Linked DNA regions of Homo sapiens: all the other regions are linked to region 1. Evidence: fine-mapped expression QTL. A gene starts in region 1. Each other region holds a variant in brackets. All regions are shown on one strand. Distances are from middle to middle.

Evidence for each region. PIP is the estimated chance that this variant, and not a neighbour inherited with it, causes the effect.
Region 2: its variant is fine-mapped to the expression of LHPP in B cells (Fairfax 2012, PIP 0.95).
Region 3: its variant is fine-mapped to the expression of LHPP in whole blood (INTERVAL, PIP 0.96).

The regions. Positions count from the first base shown.
Region 1 is chr10:124,457,024-124,466,761 of GRCh38, reverse strand. LHPP (phospholysine phosphohistidine inorganic pyrophosphate phosphatase) reads right to left here and starts at 4,939. Exons shown (of 7, transcript NM_022126.4): 1 at 4,775-4,939. The coding sequence starts at 4,899. RefSeq lists enhancers at 2,082-2,582, 2,583-3,083 and a silencer at 4,600-5,059.
Region 2 is chr10:124,598,308-124,608,045 of GRCh38, reverse strand. The region is part of intron 6 of LHPP (phospholysine phosphohistidine inorganic pyrophosphate phosphatase); the gene reads right to left. Among named protein-coding and RNA genes, the nearest start is that of FAM53B-AS1, 100 kb to the left of the region's middle. RefSeq lists an enhancer at 1,205-2,149. The variant C/G (reference allele first, on the strand shown) is at 4,118.
Region 3 is chr10:124,492,405-124,502,142 of GRCh38, reverse strand. It overlaps LHPP (phospholysine phosphohistidine inorganic pyrophosphate phosphatase), which reads right to left. Exons shown (of 7, transcript NM_022126.4): 4 at 5,119-5,182; 5 at 4,015-4,107. Among named protein-coding and RNA genes, the nearest start is that of LHPP, 35 kb to the right of the region's middle. RefSeq lists enhancers at 5,210-5,787, 5,788-6,365, 6,366-6,943. The variant T/C (reference allele first, on the strand shown) is at 5,094.

The sequences.
Region 1 (9,738 bases):
ATGCAGGCTGGGCGCGGTGGCTCACACCTGTAATCCCAGCACTTTGGGAGTCCAAGGTGGGCAGATCACATGAGGTCAGGAGTTCGAAACCAGCCTGGCCAATGTGGCAAAACCCCATCTCTACTAAAAATACAAAAATTAGCCAGGCATGGTGGCAGGTGCCTGTAATCTCAGCTACTCGGGAGGCTGAGGCAGGATAATCACTTGAACCCAGGAGGCAGAGGTTACAGTAAGCCAAAATTGCACCACTGCCCTCCAATCTGGGTGACAGAGCAACACTCTGTTTCAAAAACAAAAACAAAAACGTTGGTATACAAAGTTATACAGTGAAGAGTCTTTCTCCTACCCTGTCTCCAACCACACAGTGGCCCCCACTTTCCTTATCCTCCAGCTCTTCCCAGACTCTGAAGCAGCCTGCGTCCTTCCAGTGTCTTTATGCAAACACAGCAGGAGAAATACATTCTTGCATTTCTGCATTTTCTATACCAGAAACAGCGCACCGTGCATCCTGCTGTGTGCTTGCTGTCTCCACTAGTAATATGTCTATAGACAAGGTACTCATTCCTTCTTACACTGCATGTTATTCTGCTGTATAAACAGACAGACCCTAAAACTCCCCTACTGATGGATATCTGAGCTGCTTCCAGTCTTTTGCTATTTAAAAGGCATTGCCAGGAATGACCTTGTACTTGTGTCCTTTCTCACACGAGATAGGACAAATTCTCAGAAGCGCAACCACTGGTAGATAATGTCAAATGTATCTTCTGCAAGCAATGTGTGGCAGGGTCTGTTTCCACAAACTCTCACAGAGAAAGTGTTCTCAAACTTTTGGATTTTGGCCAATTTTGTCAAATTGATGAAACAGGGCAGCTTGATATAGTTTTAATTTGCATTTCTCAGGCTGGGCGCAGTGGCTCACGCCTGTGATCCCAGCACCTTGGGAGGCCAAGGTGGGTGAATCACTTGAAGCCAGGAGTTCGGGACCAGCCTGGCCATCATGGTAAAATCCTGCCTCTACTAAAAATACCAAAAATTAGCTGGGCACGGTGGCATATGCCTGTAGTCCCAGCTGCTCAGGAGGCTGAGGCACAAGAGTGGCTTGAACCCAGGAGGCAGAGGCTGCAGTGAGCCGAGATCACACACCTCTTATTTGAGTAAGGCGGAGCCTCTCTCACTTCCTCTTCCATGACCTGTTTGCATCTTTTGCTCATATTGCTATTGGGCTGCTTGTTCGTTGTTTTTGCTTTCTAGATTTCAAGGCCTGGATGTAAAGGCCTTCTCTCCAAGGTTTCAAAGGAAATCTCCCTTGCTTTCATTTGACTTGTATGTCTCACTTTTTACATTTGTATTTCTTTAAAACATATAAATCAGACCACATGATATGCCTATCTAGAGTCTTCACTGACTTCCTGCCACTCAGGATAAAGTCCGGACACCTCTCCGTGCCCCTCAAGTTCCTGCCTGGTGTACCCACTCCCCCACCCCACGCCCTCGAACTCGCCAAGTGCTCTCTTCCTGAGGTCTTTGCAGCTACCATTCCTTCTGCCTGGAATGCGCTTCCTCCGCCTCTTCCTGCAGACAGTTCCCTCTTATCCCTCCGGGTCTGTCCAGTGCCTTCTCCTCAGAGCTGTCCCGACCCCCTCTCTAGCACAGGCCACCCTCGTCCATCACACTCTCAGTACCCTCCCGTCTTCACACCCCTTAGGCCTACCTGTGATGATGCGCTTTACCCGTGTGCCCACCTGTGAGGATGATTTACCTGTGTGCCTGCAGCTTTACTGTCCCTCTCCCCTCCACACATCAGACCCTAATACTCCCCTACTGATGGGTATCTGAGCTGTTTCCAGTCTTTTGCTATTTAAAAGGTACTGCCAGGAATGACCTTGTACTCATGTCATTTCTCACGCATGAGACAAGGACAAATTCTCAGAAGTGGAACCACTGGTAGATAATGTCAAATGTATCTTCCGCAAGCAATGAGTGGCAGGGTCTCCCATGAGGCCTTGCCTGCCCCAGTCACAGCATTGAGCTCTGGCTTCCTGCTCCCCAGATGAGGCCCACTTCACCCCAAAACACTGCCCAGAGCCCTCTGCTGGATTCCCACCAGTGCCACTCACAGAATGCTCTCATCTGTGACTGAGCTAGTCTAAAGCTTTGGAGTAATGGAGAATAAGGTCAGGAATGCACTTAACCCTGAACTTCAGCCAACACTGAGAGCAGACCCAGGACCCAGCGGAGTGTCCTAGGTCTGGGCTGCCCTTTGTGCTTGCTCCTGGAAGCCAAGTCTCCCTGTTCCCAGTTCCCAGCCTCCCAAACACCTCCGGCTTCACTATGCGGGACCGTTTGGGTCCCTATTATCTCAGCAGCTCCCAGACATCAGACATGCAGATTGGTAGAATGGGGTCTCTAAGAAGGACCAAGAGACTCAGTTAATTGCCACCTACAGATAGGTATATTGAGTCCCAGTGACATCAGGCTACCAAGCCAGGGTGCCTCAGCTAGTGACTCCGGGAGGCCAAGTCCTGGCAGTTAGCCCTTCCCGGCTGCCTATCAACACATGGCAGTGCTGACCTGGGATGCCAACAGGAGGCCTTACAAAGCCCAGGTCCAGTGGTGCCAACCATGCTACTGAAAGTGTCCTTCTGGCTGGCCACAGTGGCTCACACCTCTAATCCCAGAACTCTGGGAGCTGAGGCAGGCAGATCACTTCAGCCCAGGAGTTCAAGACCGGCCTGGGCAACATGGCAAAACCCCATCTCTACAAAAAACACAAAAAAATTAGCTGGGCATGGTGGCACGTGCCTGTAGTTCCAGCTACTTGGGAGGCTGAGGTGGGAGGATCTCTTGAGCCCTTGAGGTAGAGGTTGCAGTGAGATTGAACCACTGCACTCCAGCCTGGGTGGCAAAGTAAGACCTTGTCTCAAAAAAAAAAAAAAAAAAAGAAAAAAAAATTAGGCCAGGTGTGGTGGCTCATGCCTGTAATCCTAGCACTTTGGGAGACCAAGGCAGGAGGACTGCCTGAGCCAAGGAGTTCAAGACCACCCTGGCAACATAATGAGACCTTGTCTCAAAAAAAAAAATTATACAAAGAAAAGTGTCAGCCAGGTGCGGTGGCTCACGCCTGTAATCCCAGCACTTTAGAAGGCCCAGGCAGGTGGATCAGTTGAGGTCAGGAGTTCGAGACCAGCCTAGCCAGTATGGTGAAACCCCATGTCTACCAAAAATACAAAAATTAGCTGGGCGTGGTGGCGGGTGCCTGTAATCCCAGATACTTGGGAGGCTGAGGCAGGAGAATCACTTGAACCTGGGAGGCAGAGGTTGCAGTGAGCCCAGATGGCGCCACTGCACTCCGGCCTGGGCAACAAGAGCAAAACTGTCTCAAAAAAAAAAAAGTGTCCTCATGGTCAAGTCTTGGCTGGCACGATGTTCTCTTCCTCCTCCTCTCACCTAAACCAATGCAGTCCAACAGAATTATAATGAGAGCCACAAAGGTAATTTAAAGTTTTCTAATAAGCACATTAACAAAAGTTAAAAAAAAAAGGTATACTTAATTTCAAATATTTTAACCTAAAACAGTATATTAAAAATATTATCAACTGGGCATGTGGCTCACGCCTATAATCCCAGCACTTTGGGAGGCCGAGGCAGGTGGATCACCTGAGGTCAGGAGTTAGAGACCAGCCTGCCCAACATGGTGAAACCCCGTCTCTACTAAAAATACAAAAAATTAGCCGGGTGTGGTGGCACATGCCTGTAATTCCAGCTATTCAGGAGGCTGAGGCAGGAGAATCGCTTGAACCTGGGAGGCGGCGGTTGCAGTCAGCAGAGATTGCACCACTGCATTCCAGCCTGGGCAACAAGAGCAAAACTCCGTCTCAAACAAAACAAATAAAAAAAGTAACTGGGCATGATGGCGGGTGCCTGTAATCCCAGCTACTCGGGAGCCTGAAGGGGGAGAATCACTTGCACCCGGGAGGCGGAGGTTGCAGTGAGCCGAGATCGTGCCATTGCACTCCAGCCTGGGCGACAGAGCAAGACTCCATCTGAAAAGAACAAAACAAAACAAACAAAAAGTATATCATTTCAACAGGCAAACAACATAACCCATTTTCATGTTTTTATTTTACATTTTACTCACGAAGTCTGGTGTTTTTGGGGGTTTTGTTTATGAGACCGTCTCGCTCTGCAGTCCAGGCTAGAGTACAGTGGGGTGATCACAGCTCACTGTAGCCTTGACCTCCTGGGCTCAAGCGATCCTCCTGCCTCAGCCTCCCAAGTGGCTGGGCCTACAGGCGTGCACCACCACACCCGGCTAATTTTTAAATTTTTGGCAGAGACGGGGTCTCCCTATGTTGCCCAGGGTGGTCTCCAACCCCCTAGCCTCAAGCGATCCTCCCTCCTCTGCCTCTGCAAGTGCTAGAATCACAGATGCGAGCCACCGCGCCCGGCTAAGTCTTGTTAATCGGTATGCATTTTACGCTTACAGCACATCTCAATTCAGACTGGCCGCAGGTCAAGCGCTCAGCAGCGCACGTACCAGGTGGCCGCCCTGTCTGACCGCGCAGCCCTAACCAGCAGAGTCCTGGTGCTCGCCGGGGGCAACAGTGGGGTCGTCCGTGGTCAGCACTGTGCGCGCACCGGGGTGGGAAGGGGGAGACCGAGGCGGGGCCTGCGCCGCGGCCCCGCCCCCTGCCGCCCCGCCCCCTGCCGGCAGCCAGGGAGCGGGCTGAGCTTAGAGCTCGGCGGCCCCAGCGGCGTCCCGGGGCCCACTCACCTGGCCACCGCCTCCACCGAGCCGGCGATGGCCGTGCCGCCGCCCGCGCCGCTGTCGTACAGCACGCCCGAGATGTCAAGCAGCACCCCGCGCACGCCAGCCAGCCGCTTGCCCCACGGTGCCATGGCGCCCGGCCCTGCTCCTCAGCTCCGCGTCCCAACCGACGCCGGCGCCGGCGCCGCGGCCGCGCAGGGGCGCCTGGGAACTGTAGTCCCGCGGGCGGGGCAGGGCAAGAAGACCGGGTGCAAACCCGGAACTGGGGCGCGGCCTGGGCACCCCGGCGTCACTCGCCCCTGAAACGGTGTCCTTTTCGGAAGCTTTCTTCCCAGGAGATCAGCGGACAAAGAGCAGGAAAAGCAGAAAACAAGTCCCTAAGAAAGGTCAAAGGCAAATTGAGACAAGAAGGCACCTGTAGCCAGGGGCGGTGGTTCACGCCTGCAATCCCAGCACTTTGGGAGGCAGAAGCGGGCGGACAGCTTGTGCCCAGGAGTTCTAGACCAACCTAGTCAACATAGTGAGACCCTGTCTCTATTAAAGAAAGAAAGAAAAAGTACAATACAAAATTGAGGCCGGGCGTAGTGGCTTATGCCTGTAATCCCAGCACTTTGGGAGGCTGAGGCGGGTGGATCGCTTGAGATCAGGAGTTCGAGACCAGCCTGGTCAACATGGTGAAACCCCTGTCTCTACTAAAAATACAAAAATCACCTAGGTGTGGTGGCGCATGCCTGTAGTCCCAGCTACTCGGTAGGCTGAGGCGGAAGAACCGCTTGAACCTGGGAGGCGGAGGTTGCAGTGAGCCGAGATTGCACCACTGCACTCCAGCCGGGGCGACAGAGCAAGACTTTGTCTTAAAAAAAAAAAAAATTATATGCAGATAACAGCCCTGCATAGATGAGGATGCATAGGACCTGGGCTGAGAAGAAAACGGGACTATCACAATGCGTTAAACCCAGGAGGTTTTTGGATAAGCTATAAAATACCACTCGATGCTACATTATTTTTGCAATAAATACACATTGATATTAAAAGGGAGGAGTTTCCTCAATGGCCCCTCGGAACCTTTCAAGTTATTAAATAGAAACGAGAACACTTTACTTCTGGTCCAACATAGCTTTGAGCTTTCAAAGAAGAGAGGATCATATTATTTCACCATTTCTTTTCAGGCTCTTGATTCACAGAAAGGATGAGGAATTCGTTGAAATGTTATGGGGTTCAATGAATTGTGTATATTTTGTTGACATGCTTACTAGGGGAGCTGTTTACAAGTGAAATAAAATACAGTTCCTACCCTTTGGGATTTCCACTAATGGGGTTGGGGAGTAGTATACCTTATATAAGGGTTCTTAGTCGCAGACAATAGACACCACTCCAGCTAGAGGGGTTTTGTTTACATGAGGTGAAGGAGCTTACAGATGACGGGTCTAAGTCCTACACAGCCAGGAGCCATGCAGCCACGAGAAACACTTAATTTTACTACTCCATTGGGACCACTGCCCCATCACTTAGTGCAGCCCCCAGCATAGCTGCCCCCAAAAGAACAAAACATATCCACCACTGTGCCCTCCACCTGTGGCCACCCACTCACTTTCACTGTGTCTGGCTTGGTGGAACCTAGCCCACGCTGCAAAGGAGTCTGGGAAATGCAGTTTTTAGTGTTCCAGGGGCTGAGTGAGTCAGTTTGGAGAATCTGCTAGGAACATCATGAACCGTACACGTATTGAGACCCTACTCTGTGCAGTGGGCACAAAAAAGTTCTAGGGTGTGATCCTTGCCTTCCAGGATCAAGACTGGGCAGAGAACAATGGAAGACCTTCACGACTGCTGACCAAATGTGTGCCAAGTGGCAATGAGTGACACAGACACAGTCAAGAGGATGACCTCTGCAGGCCTAGGAGGGCAGCTGTGGCTTCTGGGCAGGGGCAGCCTGAAATGGACCTTGGAGAATGGCTGGGCTTTAGCTTCATGCCAAGGAGGAGGAAAAGGGGTGCTTCTGCCAGTGGTGTGAGCCTACCCATAGTTGTTTCTTTTCAGTCAGCTCTGTGGGTACTCTTGGGCAAGTCCCTTTTCATTTCTACGACTACAGTAGACAGAATAGTGCCCCCTTGAGATGTCCACCTCCCAATCCCCACAACCTCTAAATATATTACCTGACATGGCAAAAGGGACTTAGATCTTGCAGAGCCTATGCTCCTGTAGGGAGATTATCCTGGATGGTCCAGGTGGGCCCAGTATAATGACATGAGTCCTCATAAGGGAAAGAGGGAAGCAGGAGAGAGTCAGAGTCAGAGAAGGAGGTGTGACAGCAGAAGCAGAGGTCAGAGAGAGAGGTGTGAAGATACCGTGCTACTGGCCTTGAATACAAAGGGGCCATGAGCCAAGAAATGCAGGTGGCCTCTGGAAGCTAAAAAAGGCAAAGAATTGGATTCTCCCCTAGAGCCTCCAGAAGGAATGCAGCCCTGCTGGTACTTCAAGTTTAGGACTTCTTACCTCCAGAACTATAATAATAAATCTGTTGTTTTAAGCCACTAAGTATATGGTAATTTCTTGCAGTAGTGACAAGAAACAAATACAGGGATCCAGGTCCCTCACCTGAAAAATGTGGCAAGTCTCTAAGTGTGGGCCACTGATAGGCTAAAACTTGATCTGAAAATTCCAGGCTTTTCTTGGGATGCAATGAGTGTAGGGCATTGTCTATGTTAGGGTTGCATTTGGCTACATGTAACAGAAACCCAGCCATAGTTGCCCAACCAAATCAGATTTTACTTTTCCTCATATATCAAGAAGCCAAGAGGGAGGAAATCCTGGATGGGACAACAGCTCCCAGGACCATCAGGCTGCCTCCTGCTTTCTGCTCCACCACTCTCTCAGCATGTGGCCTGCTCCTCACGCTAGCAAGATTCCTGCTCCACCCGAGGCATCATGACTGCATTTCAGGCAGGAAGGAGGGGAAAGAAAAGAAAAAAGGGCATGTGACAGCTGAGTCTGACCCTTTATACCCAGAAAGCAAAAGCTTTCCCAGAACCCTGATCCAATGGACTCTCATTTGCATCTTTTGGGCCAGAGCTAGCCAGGTGGCACATGAACACCATAGTGTGCCAGGAAGCATACACCACTGACTGAGCTTTCAGCCTGTTATAGCAAATCTACAACTCATGTCTGAATTTCAGCTCAACTATGAATCTATCAACCATCTATTGCTATACTAGACATATGCCTCATCCTTTCAGATTTGCTTGTCATAGTCAGGACTCTTCGGCTGCCAGTGACAGAAGCCAAATTTCAAATGGCTTCAATTTAAAGGAATTTATTGGCTCGCACAACCAGATAGTCTAGCAATGGACAGCGTCAGGCATGGCTGGTTATCAGCTCTGGGCTCACAGAGTCTCCGGTACACCACCTGGTGAGGATCCTTTTCCTCAACTTGGTCTGGCTGTTCCAGAAAGAACTCTGATTGGCTCTCTTGGGTCAGTGTCCCCCATTGTCTGTGTTCCAATGGAAGTGATACTGTGATGTTCCAGCCTGACTGGTGCCCTTACCAGGGCTGGAGGTGGGACACTTGCCTATAGTCCCACCATGACCAGAAGGAAAGGGAGAGGACAAGCCCTCCAGCAAAAAGCAGGGCGCATTAGCCGGACGTGGCAGCACATACGTGAAGTCCCAGCTACTCCAAAGGCTGGGGCAAGAAGATCACTTGAAGCTGGGCGTGGTGGCTCACGCCTGTAATCCCAGCACTTTGGGAGGCTGAGGCGGGTGGATCACGAGGTCAGAAGATCAAGACCAGCCTGACCAACATGGTGAAACCCCCATCTCCACTAAAAATACAAAAATTAGTCAGGCGTGGTGGCACACGCCTGTAATCCCAGCTGCTCAGGAGTCTGAGGCAGGAGAATCGCTTGAACCCGGGAGGCGGAGGTTGCACTGAGCCAAGATCACGCCACTGCACTCCAGCCTGGGCGACAGAGCGAGACTCCATCTCAAAAAAAAAAAAGAAGATCACTTGAACCTAGGAGTTGGAGGCTATAGTGTACATGACTGCAACTGCAACTGTGAATGGCCACTGTATCCTAGCCTAGGCAATATAGCAAGACTTCTCTAAAAAAAAAAAAAGAGAGAGAAAAGAAAGCAAAAAAGCAGGGCACTGTGAAAGAGGAATAAGGAAGCAACATGGTATAGGCAAAAGTAGCAGGTGCCCACCAGTCACCAAGACCTTTCTTATTATCAAATCCCATCTCCCTGGAAAGTGAGACCAGACCAAGTGAGGGCCATATGAGCCAAAGAATCTTCTGTTTTATTGAGATGGGCTATAGTGGAAAAAAAAATCAGAGCACCATTAATAACAGAAATGCTTCTCAGGCCGGGCACAGTGGCTCACACCTTGGGAGGCCAAGGCGGGCGGATTACCTGAGGTCAGGAGTTCGAGACCAGTCTGGCCAACACAGGGAAACATCGTCTCTACTAAAAATGTAAAAATTAGCTGGGCGTGGCGGCACAGGCCTATTGTCCCAGCTACTCGGGAGGTTGAGGCAGGAGAATCACTTCAACCTGGGAGGCAGAGGTTGCAGTGAGCCAAGATTGCGCCACTGTGCTCCAGCCTGGGCAACAGAGCGAGACTCTGTCTCAAAGAAAGAAAGAAAGAGAGAGAGAGAGAGAGGAAGGGAGGGAGGGAGGGAGAGAGAGAGAGAGAGAGAGAGAGAGAGAGAGGGAGAGAGAGAAAGAAAGAAAAAGAAAGAAAGAAAGAAAGAAAGAAAGAAAGAAAGAAAGAAAGAAAAAGAAAGAAAGAAAGAAAGAAATGCTTCTCAAACTTTAATGTGCATTAGAATCACCTGGAAGGCTTTTTAAAACAGGTTTAGATTCAGGAGGTCTGGGTGGCCCTAGGAACCTGGAAGATGGCTGTCAGTTGATGTGGGCTATTTTCTGGAGTCCTACACATGGCCTCTGCATGTGGCTTGTGTATCTCACAGCAT
Region 2 (9,738 bases), 140 kb before region 1:
TCCTGCCCTCTGCCCCTGCAACGCTTCTATTCCCTGGTCTCACCTCTGCCTGGCCTGTGTGCATGGGCCTGCATCAGCCCTGCCAGGCTGCCCTCAGCTCCCACTAGGGTCTGGGGAGATGAGCTCCAAAGCACTGCTCGCAGCCGCCACGTGTGCACCCAGCCCACGCTTACAAGGAGTCGGGGGCTGAGGCCGCGGCCCGGGTCTGACGTCCTCTCTGGTACCGCAGCCAGTTCCCATCTGATTTCCAACTTTTCTCCCCACAACAGTGAGAGGTTTGGGTTCCTTGTTGCCCGAAGCGGAACAAAAATTCTTCCAGCAAACACCGCCCATGATTCATCATCCGAGCCCCCGGGGGACTGGCCCCCAGGACCCCCTCCTTGGACACCTTCCCCAGGTGCCCTGGGGCCAGGCTTATTGTCCAGGCAAAAGCAACCAGCCCCGAGAGGGAACAAGAGGTCTCCCCATAGAAGATGACGCTTTGTAATGAGAATCCGGCCAGCCCCACTCCGCACGTGTACCTAGCCGAATGGCGTCCGTGGCTAATTATGTTTAATTACATATCATTTAAATTCAAGAATCCACTAAAAGAAAGGATTGCATTAGCACCCGGCCGGTGTTTGCCCACACGCAGCGGAAATCGTGGACTTTTATGTCTTAATTACGTGACGCTGCTGTGGGCTGTGTCTCCCAGGGAGCTGGGGTAGGCAGGAGGGGACCTGTTCCTGGCCTGGTGGCCCCAAAGCCCCTGAAGCAGCTCTGCTTTGTCCAATGGCCTGGGCAGGAGGAGTCCCTGCCCCACACTGGCCAGTGCCCTGTGACCTGTGGACCTCAGAGATGTCACGGTACAAAAGCTGAACCAAGAAACCCAGCAAAGGTGTGTCCTCGGCAGTGGGTACAGAGCGGAGAGGGTGAAGCAGGAGGGGCCGCAGACCATCCTGCCCGGAGTGGCCCTACTGGGACAGAGCTGGAGGAGGAGGAAGAGACAGACAGAGAGACACGGCCACACACGGAGGGAGGGAGGGCAGGGACAGGAAGAACCATGAGACAGGCAGAAACGGAAAAAGAGGATGAAGCAGAGAAAAGAGGGCAGAGAGAGGGCAGGCGAGTAGAGACAGACACATGGAGGGAGGGGACAGGCATGGGACACAGGAACAGGGGCAGGGGCCTGTAACAGGCAGGGAAGGGCTGGGGCTGCCCCCACGGTTCTGTGTCCTGGCCATGTGGGCCTGCGTTAAGCCCCTCCGCCCTTCCCTGGCTACGGGCCTGGCTGACGGCTCCCCGTGGGGGTCACAGCGCTGCTCCTCCCCCTGCCCCAGGCCCAGCCCAGGCCCCCAGACAGCTGAGCACCCTGCTCTGTCCCCAAAAAAGTGCATGGCCCAGGGCCGGTCTCTTCACCTGCCCGAGCCTCAGTTTCCTCATCTGTAAGGTAGCATAGGGCTTGGCTCTGGGGGCCACTCTGAAACGAAACAAAAGAGGCAAGACTGCACACGAAGTTGGCGTTTCCCCTGCACCTGGGGACCCTGCAGCTCACCCTGGCGCTGGCCCTGCCCCCTCCCACCTCCACCATCTGCCCTCCAGGGTTCACAGTCCAGTTCCACACTCACAGTTGTCAGCACTGCTGGGAAAGAAAGAAAAGGGCCTGGAGTCTGAGGGCACTGATGGGAGAGGGAGTGGGGCAGGACTGAGCGGGGCAGGGACGCTTCCGGAAACAGGGACGTTAAGGCTGAGCACTGCTCCCGTCCATCGTCCTTGCTGCTGTCCCCCCGAGAATGGTGTGGAGACACCAGGCCTTTGCTGGGTGGCTTCTTCACTAAGCCAGAGTGCCTGGCCCTCGGGGCCTGGCTGGGAGGTGGGAGCAGTGAGTGATTTCCCCAGGCGCCTGCGGGGCGGCTGCGGGTTCTCCTCTCCTCTCCTGGGGGCAGCCTCCCTCGGGCTGCATTTGGGCGTCTCTGGCTGAGGACCTGCTTCTGATGTGGGGTGGGCCCTCCAGGTACCTCCCCCATCCTTGCGCAGGAGCCTGCAGGGTGGGTCCTGCTGCCCGGGTTTCGGAGGTAGAAGCGGAGGCACACAGCTGGGAGGCATGTGGCTGCAGGACCAGGAGGCTGGCCTTAACCACCGGAACCCACAGGGTGACCCGGGCCCCTTGAAGGCAGGAGGTCTTCTGCTGAAGCCTGTTCCCTTCCCCTTCCCCCTCCCCCTCCACTGGCTCTCCCTCCTGCCTGGCCCCCTCTCCTCTTTTGCAGCCAGAGTGGCTTCCCTAAATGCTCAGCTGCTCCCGCCTCCCCTGTGTAAACTGCTGTGGCTCCCTATTGCCCACATCATAGCCTGGCTCCTCAGCATGGCAGATGAGTCCATCCTGACTGGGCCCCACCTGCGGACCTCCCTCGCCTCGCCAGCCACTCAGTGTCTGGGCTGCTGCTCTTCAGACATCCCAGCTCTCCCTGCCATTGCCCATGCTGTGCCCTGGAATGCTCTTGAAACCTGCTCCACCTGCAAACTCCTGTTCACGTTTCAAGACCCCACTCACCTGTCCCCATCTCCCACTGTATGCTCCTTCCACAGGGCGAGTTGCTCTCTCTTCTGAGCATGCAGAATGTGCCCTCCAACCACCCCATGCCATCAAAGCTGGGGGCTGCTCTGCCACTTCATCTGCAGGTGCCAGTGTTGACTTCGCTTCCTGGAGGGACAGGCCAGGTTTCCTGCCCTCGGTGGTCCCCCCCACAGGCCTGACCCAGAGCAGGCACCCAGGAAGTGCCCACCAAATGAATAAACAAAGGCCCCCAGCTGGGCAGGCCAGTGCCTGTCATCAGTGATTCCTCCCCCTCATGCTCTGTCAGCCGAATGCAGGGAACGGGTGAGTGAGAGGCAGAAAACAAGGCGGTTCTGTGCCTGGGGCCTGGCCAGCTTCACAGGGACAGTCTTTGTACCAATCGAAGGAAAATGGTGGCCAGGCCCCAGCAAAAGAGCCCCATGAGGCCAGTCTCCCTGCCGCCTCCTCCAGGGCACACGCAGGCCAGCACCGCCTCCTGGGGAACACTGACCAAGGGAGACGGGTGCGGCCTCTCCCCGAGGGGCTCTTGAGGGACCTGAGCTGCCCGGGACTCCCAGTCGGTGGCCCACCCGCCTCCTCTCTACCCTGCAGGGGCAGGGGAAGGGGCAGGGTGGGGCAGAGACTCTCACAACTGGAGGCCGCAACAGCTGCCTACCCAGGGAGGGGCAGGTATCCCTGTCCCCATTTGCTTTGGAAAGGCAGTGGCTGGGAGCCAGGTGCAGGGGGCGGCTGCCCAGTGAATTCAGGGATCTGGGCACTGGCATCAGAGGGTGACGCCAGCTCGGCTGTGCCGACAGACTTGCAGGACAAGGACAGAGGGTGATTCATGAGGTGGAGGTAGTGAGGCCGGGCAAGGGGCATCCTTCCATCAGAACCCCAGGAGCCCAAGACCCCCGGGGGCCTGGGGGGTTATTTCTAGAAGGGTGTTCACCAGAGCCTGACCCTGGCAAGTGCCTGGAGGATGCAGCTGGGAGGTCTGCCTCCACCTGCACACCCGCAGCTTCTCTGAAGGCTGCTTATCAGATGGTCTGCACCGGTACATCACACACACTAGGCCTGTGCCCATGGGGTTCCCTGCTGTCCACGTGCTGGCCCAGCACGGCCACCCTCAGGACAGCAGCTTGCTGGGGCCCAGTGAGGTGGGCAGAAGGCCCAGAACATCCCACATCCAGCCCGTGACCTGGCCTGAGCTGGGTCCCTGGCAGGTGCCCGAGGGTCGGTGGCCTCCTTACGGGGTAGCTGGGTGGCGGAGTGGAGATGGCCACAGATCTCAGGCAGGCTGCTCCGACCTCCGTCCCCTGGGTTCTGGAAGCAGGTCGGGGAATGACATGCCCAGACCCATGTACCTCTGGGAAGGTGCCATGTCGTGCTGCTTACAAAGAAACCCGAGCAGGAGCTCCTTCCCATGGAGCCTGTGCATCCAGCCAAGGCCTCCCAAGCCCCTCTTCTCCCAGGACCTGGGGGTCAAGAGGCACACAAAGGACTCTGACCTGGTCCCTGCCTGCAAAGAGCTCACATGGCACCTGAGCCCAGCACTCCAGCCCCAGGCCCGGGCCTTAGCAG[C/G]TGCCTGGGGGACACAGGCTCCAGCCTCAGCTACCTGTTCTCACTCAGGGATTGCTCAGCCCTCAGGCCCGTGTCCTCCCAGGCCAGCTCTGCCCACAGGCCTGGGGACTGCTGAGTCAACCTGGAGCCCCGGAGCCCAGCGTGGGGACCCTCCAGCCCAGGGCACCTCCTGCCATTGAAGCCAGCTGGGTCCTGGCACGAAGGGTGGCCTGGAGGGACCGGAGGGTCCAGGGCCACATCAGTGCCGAGGCGAGGGCCGCGAGGAGGCTCCCAGCTTGGAGACCCGCCCTCCCCTTGCCCAACCTGCTCACACATACAGGACCTTCTCGGGCGGCTTTGAAGTCACTTGGCAGAAAAAAAAAATCCAAACAAAAACCCAGGACTGAAGGAGTCCTCATCCTGGGCCTCTCTGGGTCCCTCACCTCTCTGGCCTGGGGACCAGAGCAGGGATGGGGACACACTTCCCCTGGCTGGGACCTCCCTTGGAGGTGCCAAGCTCCCTTTCCCACTGGCCCAGCTGAGAGCAGGAGCAGTGGCCCTGTCAGGTGCTTGTCCCCCATCCGTTTGGCCATCTGCTCCTCTGTAACAAGGAGGGGTGGGGAGGGAGGAGGTGACCCCTCCCCCTGAGCCCCTACACATGGAATGTGTGTGTGGATGAGAAAGCTGTGCACCCGGGCTGGGCCTGCCCAGCCCAAACCACCCGTGCCCGCCTTCCTCCCACGTGGGGTGAGCCAGACACCCACAGAGGCTGGGCATGAGCGCACTGCAGGTGTCCAGCTAGGCTGCCGCCCGCAGGCAGCACTACATACAAAGAGCCAGGGCAATGGTGAGGGGCCTGGATTCCCCAACTCTGTCCTGCCCTGGCCTGGCCCAGCCCCAGTACCCCTCCCAGGGACTGCAGCTGGCCACACCCCACCCTGCCCTGTCCCTCCCACCTGTCCAGGAGGCCTGACAAGGGTGTCTCAGAGCTAAGAGTGAGGTGGGGTCCTGTGCCCCCCAACCAAAAGAGACATCTTCCCTGTGTGCACATGTGTGGGCGGTTGCAACCCAGAAATAGGAGAGGGGCGCACTGCGTCTCCTGCCCCTCGGCCTTGGATCCTTACAGTCTCCTGGTGGTCTGGCCCCCATCTGGATCTGGATGTGTGAAGAGCTGGGGTGGGGCAGGGCTGGGCTAACTGAACCCCAATTTTCTTCCATTGGGGGGCAGGGCTGGGCTAACTGAACCCCCTTTCCTTCCAGTGGGTGGTGCCCAGGGCCCAGAGCCTGCCCCGGCTGACCTGTCCTCTGGCTAGTAAGGACAAAAGTCTCTCCTCGCAGAAGGAGGCACTCACTGAGCCAGTCCCCCAGGGCTCTGAGCCCTAGTGGGTAAACCGAGGCACAGGAAGGGATCTGCCCAAGGTCTCACACACCCCCAGGAGCCACAGACTCACTGGAAATAGGCCTGCCTGCTGCCCACAACCCAGAGCTCTCCACCAGCCAGTGGGCAGGCCCCGGGATGCAGGTGAGGCTCCTCTAGCTAGCAGACTTGTGGCCTCCAGGACATCAGCGATACCACAATGGGCCCACACCTCTGCAGTAAGCCAGCTGTGGGTGGCGTCTCTATGTGCTCTGCACAGCGCGCCATGGGGTGCGCACCATGATCTGCTTCTCTGAGATGAGGAGAGAGACCCCCAGAGATGAACAGCCATGCTCAAAGTCACAGCCAGAAGTGGCAGAGCTGGGGTTTAAACCTGGTTCGTCTCCCTCGCACAAGAATCGAAATCTGGGCTCACGTCAGCAGATCCTCCCTGGGCACGTGGGGCATAGCCTGCATCTGGGTGTCTCTGGTGGGCTGGTTGACTCTGGCTAGACCCGGAGGCCTGTAGGCAGGGGTCTCCACTCCCACCCACCCCCGGATGGAGCTGGGGCACTACGAAGAGGCAGTGCAGCGGAGGACGGGGCACAGCACACATGGAGGTCAACGGGACCTGGAGAAGGAGTGGTGCATGCTGCGAGTGCACGCAGGGCCTGGTAGCCCACGGCCTCCCCATGGCTGGTGCTCCACGTGGGGCCACCCAGATGCCTGCATTCCTTGGGATCTGCAGCCTGGTGGTCAACAGGACCCGGGGAGCCAGGCCTGAGGCAAGGGCGTGTGCCAGCCAGGCAGAGAGCAGTGGGGCCTGGCGGGGAAGGGTTTTTGCCGTGAACCTTGGCACCCACCAGTCTCTGTCCACAGGGAGGAAACGGGGCTTATTTACGGCTGGGTTTAGCCAGGTGGCACTCTGTCAACCAGAACCGACACCATGGCGCCAGCTATTTCCTGCGCGGTTCTCACTGCCCCACTGACTGCGGGCACCGCAGGGGCTGAGAACAGAGGTGGGACGCACTGAGAGGGACTGGTGGTGACGCTTGGCCGCCCACCAGCGGGTTGGTGGTCTCCAGAGACTCCCTCACGTGGCAAATGCGGTACCTTGAACCCCCAATCCTGGCTGGAGTGTGGGGCAAGTGCTCACCCGCCTGTCTCAGGCCCTCACCCAATTCACGTACGTAAGGCCCCCCGGTCAAGCGCACATAGAACTTTTCAAACCTAGGAGCTGGAAACCTGGCTTCTTGAGAAAATCTGAAAGATCCCACAATATGGGCCGACAAACCATGGGCAGCACTGCGCTGCAGCGTGTGACGCGGCAGCTGCTTCCTTGAAAGGGGCAAGGCGGGCCCAGCCTGCCACACTCCCACTATTCTCTAATGTCTCCCTGTTCCCACGCCAGGCACACGTCACTCTAGTGCACTTCCCCCTACCCCTGGGGGTGTCTCTGAATCTGCTGCCCTGCCCTAAAGCTTTAGCTCCCTGGGCCTCATTCCCTAAGAACAAGTCACCTCCTCCAGGAAGTCTTCCCTGAAACCTTCCTCCCTCCAACCCTTGCCTCCTCAGTTAGGTGCCCACTCTGCACTCCACGGTAACTGTGTGGACCCCATCAAAGCACCCATCAATCTGCCACAATTGTTTGGTTACCTGTGTGCTGCCACCTCCACACTGAGATCCCTGAGATCAGGGACATTCCGTTAGTGGCCTCATGGCCTTGGCTCCTAATGAGCACACAAGCAGGCAGCCTCCTTCCTACTGACCACTGGGGACTGTGGGTTATCGCCTGGCATTGGCTTCCTGTGAGCCTCGGCCCTCCTAGAAATCTGGGCTGGGGGGCAGTCCCTCCCCATGAGTGGAGGAATGATGGGCAGACAGGCAGGCCCCTGGGGCTCAGGGCCTTGGCGCCCTGGCCTGAGCTCACCCTCCTGGTCCTCCCTAGAGTCCAGCTCCATCCAGCACGAGGGGCCACATGCACTTCACCTCCTCCGGGGAGGCCCCACTGCGTGAGACCCCGGGCACCTAGGTTGCAGCACCCAGATACAGAGAATTTCCTTCTGGAGACCAACTGCCCTGGATGGAACAACCTCTCCCCACATCCAGACTGAGAGGTGTGGGCATGCTGGCCACCCCACCCAGGCCAACACCCAGATCGAGCCAGCCCTGTTTCTGGCCAGTGAAGCTGAGCCCTAAGAGGCGAGCCCCCCACCCTGCCCCAGTCGCCTGCAGCCCTCTGTGCCTTTGGCGAAGCAGGCACCAGTGCCCCAGGGCAGGGGCCTAGGAAGAGCTGCAGGTGCCAGTAACAGAAACAAAAGCTCACAGAAGCCGGGGCTGCGCCAAACCAGCAACCCAGGATCCTGGAGGTCTGACAGGGGACCCATCACTGCGAGGGGCCGCGCTACCAACAAGGCCAGACCCTGTCTCCCTAATGTGGCCCACAGGGGGGCCTTGGAGCTGGCCTCTGCTTACCCACCAGCTGCCCCCTCTCCCCGCTCCCGAGCACTCATGTCCCCAACTGCCCCTGCCTCACTTGGTGCCTTTCTCTGCCACCTCCTCTGCCTGGAACACCCTCTCACTCCCTCACTCCGCAAAAGCCCCAACTCAGAGATCCCTGCCCTGTGGTCTTCAGGACCTATCCTACCCCCAAAATAAATGCATGATCAGTGAATGAAGACCTGGAAGGTCTCTGGGACACAGGCCTGGGGGACCCAGTTGGGACCTTCCAGAATGGGGGCTGACAGTGCCATGGGACGAGCACCCCCAGAGTGGATGGCTCTGTCCACAGAGCACGACACTCGGTTCAAGCCACAGTGCAGACGCAGCTCCTGGGCACTCCAAGTCAGGCCCCAAGCAGTGGGCCAGCACATTCCCCAGGACACCCACAGCATGTCCAGACAGCAAAAGTGGCTTCTCTTTTTCTCCTTGTTTTGTACAGAAAGCTTTGAGAGCCAGGCCTCCCGAATTCCAGTGACACGTGGGACTTGGGCCTCCCATAGCCAGGCTGAGGAACTGAGAGGGGAGCGGGGAGGGCTGGCAGCTGCCTGGCAGGGAGTACGGAACCCCTGGCTGCTCCACCTGCAAGCCTGGAGGCGGGACTGGCAGAGGGGGCCTGGGCTTTGGCCATGGGAAGCGCTGGCCCTGAGCTCTGTGTGACCTTGGGCAAATGGCCACTCAGAGCCTCCCTTCTCTCATCCTGAAAGTGCAGCTGAAAAGAGCCCCTCCTGGGGCTACGATGGAGATTCACCGAGATGGTGCAGGTCGTGGGCATGGCAGGTGCTCGCCTGGGTGGATGGGTGGATAGATGGATGGGAATGGACAAACAGACAGTTGGAAGGATGATGCATGCACAGGGATGGACAGGAGGATGGATGGCTGGGGACGGATGGGTGGATGGATGGGTGGGTGGGATGAGTGGATGGGTGAGTGGACAGATGGGCAATGAATGGATGGATGGACATGGATGGATGGATGGGAATGGACAGAGAAGGGTGGACGGCAGGCACTGCATCAGGGTGGATGAGTGGATGGATGGACAGGGATGGATGGATGGGGATGGACAGGTGGATGGATGGATGGATGGATGGATGGGCAGAGATGGATAGATGGAGATGGAAGGACAGAGATGGATAGATGGAGATGGATGGACGGGGATGGACAGAAAAGGGTGGATGGCAGGTGCTGCATCAGGGTGGATGGGTGGACGAATGGACAGGGATGGATAGGGGGATGGACAGGTGGACAGATGGATGGACAGAGATGGATGGATGGGGATGGACAGAGAAGGGTGGGTAGCAGGCGCTGCATCAGGGTGGATGAATGGGCAGGGATGGACAGGGGGATGGATGGATGGGGATGAACAGGTGTACGGGTAGACAGATGGACACGTGGATGGCAGGAACTGCATCAGGGTGGACAGGTGGATAGGGATGGATGGATGGATGGATGGATGGACGGACGGATGGGTGGATGGACCGCTCCCAGCAATTCCTCGTGCTGGCCCTGGCCTCATGGGAACTCATGCTGACCTGACTGTCTGGAGAGCAGGCCCCACCTCAGGAGATGGTGGGCAGGTCCGATGCCCAAGCACCTCAGGGGGGCTTTCCCCATGGGGTTATCAATAGAACCTCAAGGCCACGCCCAGCCAGGCCACCAGGCTCACAGTGCCACACTCCTGCCCTGCGGTGGCCAAGCAGGCCCTGGACAGCTGACTCCCAGACCCTGCAGAGGCACCTGTGTAGCGGCTGTGCCTGGGGACCAGTGGCAAGGGGCCACCCTGGAC
Region 3 (9,738 bases), 35 kb before region 1:
ATGATGGGGAAGCTGCTGAACGGTACACGTGAACATTTTGTACTATGTTTGCAACTTTTTGTGAGTGTCAAGTTACTTCAAAATGAAAAGTTGAAAACAATTTTAAAGTGGTTATTAGTTGATAATTATTAAAGCACAGTGATGGGTACCTAGGAGTTCCCTGAGCTGCCCTCTCTACTGACATAGATATTTCAAATGTTCTATGATGGAGGGCTAAAAAGAGAGGCTCAGAAAACATAAAAACGACACACAAGTCACGGAGCTTCTTCAGATTGGATTCCAACAGATCAACGGTAAAAGAGCATTTCTGAGACAGTCAAGGAAATTTAAATATGGGTTGCTATTAAATAATACTAACAAAAATCACTGTTAATTTTTTAGGTGGTTTTAAAATGTTTATTGTGGTAAAATACACATTACATAAAATTTATGACCGTGACCAGAGTATTCAATTCACTGGCATCGAGCACATTCAGAACGTCGTGCCACCATCATCACTGTCCAGTTCCAGAATATTTTTCTTTTTTTTTTTTTTTTTTTTAAGACAGAGTCTGGCTCTGTCGCCCAGGCTGGAGCACAGTTGCACGATCTCGGCTCACTGCAATCTCCACCTCCTGGGTTCAAGCAATTCTCCCACCTCAGCCTCCCGAGTGGCTAGGATTATAGGTGCACACCACCACGTCTGGCTAATGTTTGTATTTTTAGTGGAGACGGGGTTTCACCATGTTGGCCAGGCTGATCTCGAACTCCTGACCTCAAGTGATTCACCCTCCTCAGCCTCCCAAAGTGCTGTGGTTACAGGTGTGAGCTGCTGTGCCCGGCCCAGTTCCAGAATATTTGTATCATCCCAAAAGGAGACCTCGTACCCTGAAGCTGCACTCCCCATTCCCCTGCACCCGACCCCTGCCAACCACTAATCTCCTTTCCATCTCTATGGATTTGCCCATTCTAGACATTTGCTATACATGGAAGAATACAATATGTGTCCTTTTGTGTTTGGCTTCCTTCACTTAGCATAATGCTACCAAGGTTCATCTACACTGTAGCATGTGTCAGAACTTCATTCCTCTTTATGGCTGAATAATATTCCACTGTATGGACATACCACATTTGGTTATCCTTTCATCAGTTGATGGGCAGGTATCTTGGCTTTTTTTACCTTTTGGCTATTGTGTATGGAGCTGCTATGAATATCTGTGTACAAGTTTTTGTTTGAACACGTGTTTCAGTTCTTCTGGGTATAGACCTGGAAATGGGTTGCTGAGTCATACGGCAAATTCTATGTTTAACTTTGAGGAACCACCAAGTGGCTTTCCGTGGCAGCATTGTCATTTCACCTTCCCAGCAGCAATAGAGAAGGGTTCCAATTTCTCTACATCCTTGCCAACACTTGTTATTTTCTATTTTTTTTTTTAACTATACAGTCATCTTAGTGTGAAGTGGTATCTCACTGGAGTTTTGATCTGCATTTCCTGATGAATGATGATATTGAGTATCTTTTTGTATGCCTGTTGGCCATGTTAGGAGTTTTAATGTATTGTATTTACATCCAAAAATCGTGATTTTTAAATGTCATGCTACAACATGAAAGGATACAATTGAGATTTGCTTTAAAATATGAAGCAAAAAAATAAGTAAATTTATTATTATCATTACTATTACTATTACTTGGAAATAGAGTCTCACTCTGTCGCCCAGGCTGGAATGCAGTGGCACAATTTCGGCTCACTGCAACCTCCACCTCCTGGGCTCAAGCAATTCTCCTGCCTCAGCCTCCTGAGTAGCTGGGATTACAGGTGCATACCACCACACCCGGCTAATTTTTATATTTTAGTAGAGACGGGGTTTCACCATGTTGGCCAGGCTGGTCTTGAACTCCTGACCTCAGGTGATCCACCTGCCTCAGCCTCCCAAAGTGCTGGGATTACAGGCGTGGGCCACCACACCCAGCCAGTAAATTTTTTAAAAGGAAAAAAAAGAGGATAGAAGAAAGGAATGTGGCAAAATCTTAACCACTGAAGCTGGATGATGGATATAATGGGGTGTCTGTATCATTCTCTCTACTTTTCTGTATGTTTGAAATCTCTAATAAAAAAAGAAATTCTGCCCTATGAAGCAAGGTAGTAAAAAGCCAGGTTATTTATTGCTGCAGTTCTCACTCATTCAAAACACAAACCTTTCCTTCTCAACAGACTAATGTGACATTTCCCAGGTGTTTTCTGGGGACTCCAGACAGCCTGCATCTTCTGACATCTCTATGGATCTCAGGGCAGGTGCAGGTGCAGTGTCTAGATTTTGGCAGCTTTGGGCCATCTTTCTCAAAGCACCATGAGGCACCAGTGTTCTGGACCGAAATGCACACAGGGGAAACATGCACCAGGCTTGACACCTGAGGGACCCCCAACCCATGCTTCTGCTGCCCACTTCTGAGGAGGCAGCAGGACAGCCTGGGGCAGCTGTGGACTCTGTTTCTTTTTTCTTTTTTTTAAAGAAGGAGTCTCACTCTATCACCCAGGTGGAGTGCAGTGGCATGATCTCGGCTCGCTGCAACTTCTGCCTCCCAGGTTCAAGCAATTCTCATCCCTCAGCTTCCCAAGTAGCTGGGATTACCAGGCATGCACCACCTCGCCCAGCTAATTTTTTTTGTTTTTCTGTATTTTTAGTAGAGATGGGGTTTCATCACATTGGCCAGGCTGGTCTCAAACTCCTGACCTCAAGTGATCCACCTGCCTCAGCCTCCCAAAGTGTTGGGACTACAGGCGTCAGCCTCCATGCCGGCTGCCCACTATTCCTTACAATCTTTCAGAAAACCTGCTGGAGGGGGCTGTGTGTTGGTGGCTCATGCCTGTAATCCCAGCACTTTGGGAGGCCGAGGCAGGAGGACGGCTTGAGCTAGGAGTTTAAAACCAGCCTGGGCAACATGGCAAAACCCCATCTCTATGGAAAATACAAAAGTTAGCCGGGGCTGGGCATGGTGGCTCACACCTGTAATCCCAGCACTTTGAGAGGCCAAGGCGGGCAGATAACCTGAGGTCAGGAATTTGAGACCAGCCTGGCCAACATGGTGAAACCCTGTCTCTACTAAAAATAAAAAATTAGCTGGTGTGGTGGTGCACACCTGTAGTCCCAGCTCATCAGGAGGCTGAGGCAGAAGAATTGCTTGAACCCAGGAGGTGGAGGTTGCAGTGAGCCGAGACAGCGCCACTGCACTCCAGCCTGGGTGACAGAGTGAGACTCTGTCTCAAAAAAAAAAAAAAAAAGTTTGCCAGGCGTGGTGGCATATACCTGTAGTCCCAGCTACTCAGTTGGGGTTGGCGGGGGGGGGGCCTGGTTAGTAAGGGGGTTAAGGGGGCACTGAGATGGCAGGATCGCTTGAGCCTGGGAGGTCCAGGCTGCAGTGAGCCATGACTGTGCCACTACACTGCACTCTAGCCAGGGTGACAAATGGAGACATTGGCTCAAAAAAAAAAAAAAAAAAAAAAGAAAAAGAAAAGAAAACCCACTGGAGGACGAAGCCAGACTCACTTAGGGTTGGGGTAGGTGTAGACAATAAAATCATAACCGATTCTTTTTCCTTTCTAAAATTTGGAAGTTTGAAAGGCAATCTATCCCAAAATAGTCAAAATATAAAGGTCGCAAAATGAGTGACTTTATTATTTCCTCCATATTGTTGTAATCTTGCTGTTACACTGTCTTGCCAGTGAGATATATTAACACACTGATAGGACTTGTCAATTCTTATCCTTTCAGAGAAGCAGCAAAAACTCAGGAAAAGCCGCAGGCATTTCTGCTTCTTGCTTTCATACTGAAAGTAACTTCACGGTTGAAACTATTCAGTGGATTTCGTTTGCTGTCTTCCCCCTCCTTCCCAGCCAGGTCAGCTTTCACAGGGAGCCCACGCTTGGCTGCCTGGCCAACCCCACAGGCTGCCTGAGTCCTGTAATCCATTCCAAGCTCCAGGGCCTCCCTGACGGGGCTGCCTCCCCTGACCCACTTCACAAGGCGCCAACCTACCTGGTGGGCTTCCACTCCTATCGCTTGCAGGGCAGACTTGAAAAACTCAGGAGAAGGCTTCCCCACCACCTCGGCTTTGATGCCACAGGCATACTGGGAAAAGAGAGAGGGACATGGCATAAGTTTGGGATCAAGGAACAGGTGTATGCCCAGCCACGGAAACACTGTCCCAAATGTGCCCCCAAGAGTCAAGGGCCTTGAAGAAGCAGGATGCTGTGGGCCTGAGAACTCATCTCACAGGCAGGAGCCTCACAACTCCAGAAAGGGCTGCCCGGGTCACTCAGGTCCCCTAGCACCAGGCACCCTGCCATCCACTCAAAGGCCTACCCACAGCAGAAGGCATCCAAGAGCTGGCAAAACTACAGGGCTCCCAAGGGCCAGCAGAGCAGTGCTCTGCTCACTCGCCTGCAATTCCGTCCTCTCATCCCTTCTCCCCCTCTTCTCCCCTGCCCACTCGCAGCTCATCACAGGGCTCCATCTGCTCGTCTGCCTCTCCCTCCCACCTGACGGCAGGCAGGCAGGAGGGGCTGCAGCTGTGAGGATGGGACGGGATGTGAGGCTGACCTGGGGCAGCTAATGGGACCTGGGCCAGAGTGGACCCAGGGGAGCCCCACCCGGAGGCCTGGCCACAGATGGCCTTGGAAACTGAAGGGGAAGTCAGGAAGGAGGCCAGTGAGGACCCGTCAAGCTTGAGGTGCTGCAGATGCCCAGGGTCAGGAATGAGAGCGGTGGTCAGCACTGATACAGAAGCCACAAGCCCGAGAGGAGTGTGGCAGAGAGCAGCTGGGAGAGCGGCAGGGTCCACGGCGGGCAGGGGGGGCTGCGCCCACTGGAGGATGGGGAGGATGGGGAGGATGGGGAGGATGGGGAGGATGGGGAGGATGGGAAGGATGGGAAGGGAGAGATGGGGAGGGAGGAGGACAGCTGAGGGCCTGAGGGCCCGAGGGCCCGGCCAGGGGAGCCCAGAATAGGAAGGCAGCCTTTGTGGAAGCCCAAAAGGCCATTTGTACGTTAATTAAGCACAGCCTCTTCTCAACAAAGACCCAAAAAGTCCCAGGTGCCCTGAGGTCTGAAGAGAG[T/C]TTGGGACAGAACCAGGGCTGGTACCTCAAGCGCCTTCATGTAGGGACCAACGTCCAGCATCAGGCCAGAGGTCTCCTTGTAGTAACGCCTAGGAGAGAGCAGAACGGAGCACGGGATGCTGAGCACGGGGAGCTGACCGCAGGATGCTAAGTATCGGGAGCTGAGCACCGGGCCTGTCCCGCTGGCTGCAGAGCCAAGCCGCGGCTGAGGGGCAGTCCAGGCGCTACGCTGAGAATGACCGCAGGGGACCAGCACCACAGAGCCGGGCGGCAGGCCGCCACACCCAGTGGGGCGAGCGCAGCAGCCAGCAGCTCCAGGGATGCCACAGGTCGCACAGAACGCAACCCTGCTGTCAGACTCGTGGGGACCCTGCTGCAATGATTAACAGGGGACCCAGAAGGCAGACGGTTTCAGTTGCTAACACAGAGAATGACAAGTGACCTGTGTCCTGGGAAGGAACAGCAGGTCCACGGGGTATGTGGCGAACCCCTAATTGCTAATAATTAACCCCTAATTGCTGGCTGAAGAAGAGAACTCCATTAGTTCCACAGCACCCTGCCGCATCCCGTTAGCCGGAGGTCAAGCGAGGTGCCAGGTTTCATGGGCGCCAGATGCTTTTATGAGAAGACAACTGTTCCTTCCCGTCTCATGGAGGTGGAGACAGGCTCTGCACGAGGGAGCATTCCTCTCTCAAAATGGCCTCACTGCTCTTTGAGCCCAGGGCTGGCTTGGTGGCTGGCTGCAGCCCGGCCAGGCTCACCCTACGATCGCGTCACACTGAGCCTCAAGGCACTCACAGTCCAGACACATGGTGGGCCAGACCTGGCTCTGGCTGAACTAAGCCAATTGACTACAATGAGGCGAGAAAGTGGTTTAACCTGCGCTGCTCTGAAGACGCAGTTCATTGAAAGCCAAGAATACACAAGGGGGCTTGATTCTTGGAACCACTAAAATGTTTTGCCATCCACCATCACATCAGTTTCCCTCTCCTCCTGCCATGCCCTTACGATATGGGAGACGTGGAGAAAGCACGTATGCAGAAAACGAGAGGGAAGAAGAGCGCATGCTGACTTGAGCATTCAGATCTCACTGCCTTCTAACGGTGTGACTTTGGGTTGCTTACGCCTGTGGGCCTCAGTTTCCTAATCTGTAAAATGGGCAAAACGAACAACAAACAATACCTACCTCACGGATTGCTGTGAAGCTTGAACAAAATAACGCATGCAAAGTTATTAACTCGGTACCTTCCATGCAGAAGCTGCCCAGATGAGACAGGAGAATATTATTATAAATAACCTTTCACCCAGGCTGACACAAGCAATAAGATGAGCTGGGGGAAGGAAAAAATGAACACAGCCCTGTTCAATTTGGGGGCTGAAATGTGTTCTGTGACCACCTGGGGTGTGAGAACTGAGCTCCTCGGGAGCTGCCCTGGGGCTGTGCCCTTCCTCCAGCTCCGCCACTCCTGGGCACCCTGCCTGTCCCTTTCTGCCCCACCTGATGCCTTGAAGCTGTAGCAGGCACCCAGCCACACCTGTGAGATGAACCGCTCACCCCTGTGCGTCCTCCACTGCCTGCCTCAGATGCTTCCCGGCTAAACTTACAAGCTGGGCTGCAGGTACGGGCTTCAGCCAAACCTGGGCCTTGCCAGGGCTGGTCCCCCTGCCACTCCTGTTAGGCAGCTTTGGAGCTTGGAGTCTGTTTGTTGAAGGTGTGGGCATCTCCTGTCATGACGTGGGCTTGGGACTCTCCACGTGAACCCCAGGCCTGTTCCACAGCCTCTGAGGCTCTGTGCTCTGGGGTCACGGCACAGGGATACAGGCTGGCTGGGATGCTGTGAATGCTCACAGAGGGGGGACCTGAAAATGCCCTCCCTTTTAGAGTGACCCCCAAAAACAGGCTTAGAAATCTCTAAGTTCATGTCTTAAACGCAGACTTCAAATGTATATTTTGCATTTACATGGCCTAAAAAAGTACTGCTTTTTCTTTTTCCCAGTTGGACAATCAGCTACTTTGGTCTGATGGTTTCCTTAGTGGGGTCCAGAGTTCTCAGGAAACAGTGAGGGGACACCGGGTCCTGGGGCCTGCACTGGCTGGTGCTGCAAATGGCCCAGGTTACCTTGGTCCCCCTTGGCATTAACGATCCCAGATGCTCCACAGCCCTTTGCAGGACTCAGGGATACTCCCAGCCCCAGCCTGCTCCACAGGGACTCACAGTCTGGTGGGGAAGCAAAGAAGCCCACAGACAAACTTTAAAGGGCAGGACCCAGGGGAGGGGCAGTCTGCTTGAACAGGGCGGGGGACAGGCTGGGTTCAGGGAGGCAGCAGAGGCATGGAAAGCTGAGACCTGAGCTAAAAGGAAGTGAAGGGGAGGTCCGGGTCCAGGGAGCACCTTGGAATCCACTGAGCACCCTGCTGAGGACCAGGGTGGCCACGCCACCACAGGCAAGGCCCTCTGCAGGCCCTCAAAGGCCATGACCCTCGTCCCCTCCTGCCCACCTGTGCCAGGAGAAGGAGGGCATCGAGGTGGGTAGGGAGGGCCTCCCTAATGAAGTGATGTGTGGAAGTAAGCCAGGACGGAGGAAAGAATATACCCCACACAGGAAATGCTTACCCAGCAACAAAAGAAAACCTGAAATCAACAAAACTACTCCATTGCGACAGGTACAGCTCTGTTTGGAGCTGAGGATTCTGGGGGCTTCTGGGCCCAGACCCCTGTCCCTCAGCTACCCTGGGGCCGGCTGGAGGAGCTAGAGGTTGGGTGGACGGGAGCAAGCACCTCCCATCATCTGGCAAAACCTCCTAAGGGGACCCACGCGGCGCCACTTCCTCTGGCCTCAAGTTCCCTGCAGCCTCTTCGAAAGCGAAAGAAACCTGGATTTTCTTATGTTTAAATTTAGTCCTGGATGGGATTTTAAAAAAACTGAACGTGCAACTGAAAATACACAATCAAAACCTTGTCTTTGCATGCTAATCTTTAGAGTCCAAGGAGAACACGAACTTCCAGAAATCAAAATGAGAAACTTTAACGTTTATTTTTTAAAAAACTGAATCTGGGCTTGATTTTATAGTGCCCAGAATTTTTCTTTATTCCTTATTCATTCAGAAAAACAAAAAGGCATCTTGAGGCCAACTGTTACCTGGAAACATTTTTTAGAGACAGAGCAAATATAAGCACTTAAAATTTTTTTTTAATATAAAGGCCCGGTAATCTCCACACACTAGAGATGCGACGTATTTCTCCTGTTACTGGTTACTGGTTTAACCCAGCCAACGGCAGCCCCACTTAGGACGTGAATGTTCTAGCCACAAAGAGGAACCCGTGGATGCTGGAAAGAAAGGGGGAAGCCCGGGAGGAGGAGTCAGATGCGATTTTATGCTTTATTCTTCTGCCGTTTCAGATTATTCAGCACAGCCTCCCTGCAAATGACCACTTGACCTTTCCCAGAAGAGCCGTTAACCTTCCATAGTCTGTCGGGTAAACAGCTTAATTTTCTGAGAGCGGCATGACAGAAGAAATTACAAAGCCAATTCCCACTCTGGGGTCCAAACAGATGCCAAATGTAAATCACTCCATTTCCAGGAGAGGGACAGTCTGCCCCGGCGCCTCCACCCGCTGCTCCTGCCTCCTTGGTGGGCACCGCTCAGCCTGTGCCCCTGTGTCCCGCAGTGCAGGATGGACCTCACCAGCAGTGACCCACAGCCGAGGACGGCATGGTGATGGCAGCTCTCGGGGGGTCCTCAGGCTGTCCTGAGAAGCTGGGACCTAGTCCCTAAAACCGCCGGTTCCTTTCTCTGGTTTTTAAACACCCAGAACCCCCATCAGCAGAGACGCCACTAATCTCCTACTTTAAAAAAACCCTTGTCTACTATGACATTTGCTGCGGTATTACAAAGCTGAAAGCGACTGCTTCCGGTTTTTTTTTTTCTTTTTCAACAATATACCTGTTCTGACTATTATTATCCATGATCTGGAATAGTGGTTTTTAATAATTATGAGACAACTTTTTTTCTTTTCTTTTTTGTAGAGACGGAATCTTACTATGCTGCCCAGGCTGGTCTCGAACCTCTGAGCTCAAGCCATCCTCTCATCTCAGCCTCCCAAAGTGCTGGGATTATAGGCGTGTGCCACGAAGCTCAGCATGAGACATCTTTAAAGAAAAAAGTGTTAACATTAACGAATTACAGCAGAGCTTCTTCATTATGCTTGTTCTCTAGTGAGGTGTTGGTGACTCAAAGGCCTAATGGGTCAGCCCGGGTAAATGAGTTAAGAGGCCAGGTTCTGTGGCTTGCTCCATAGCAGCGACCTAAATTGCAATGGGTGTAAGTTTAAAAAGGGACTACAAGGGTTAATTTAATATGTCAACTTGGCTGGGCCACGGTGCCCAGATATGTGGTCAAACATTATTCTGGATGTTTCTGTGAAGGTGTTTTTGGATGAGATTAACATTTAAATCGGTGAACTAGGAGGAGAGTACATTCCCTTCCGCAATGTGGGTGGACCACATCCAACCAGTTGCAGGCTTTACAAGAACAAAGACTGACCTTCCCCGAGCAAGAATCCCACCAGCACACAGCCTTACGACTCTGCTGCGCGCATTCCTGAGTCCCTAGCCTGCCAGCCCTGCCCTGCAGATTTTGGAC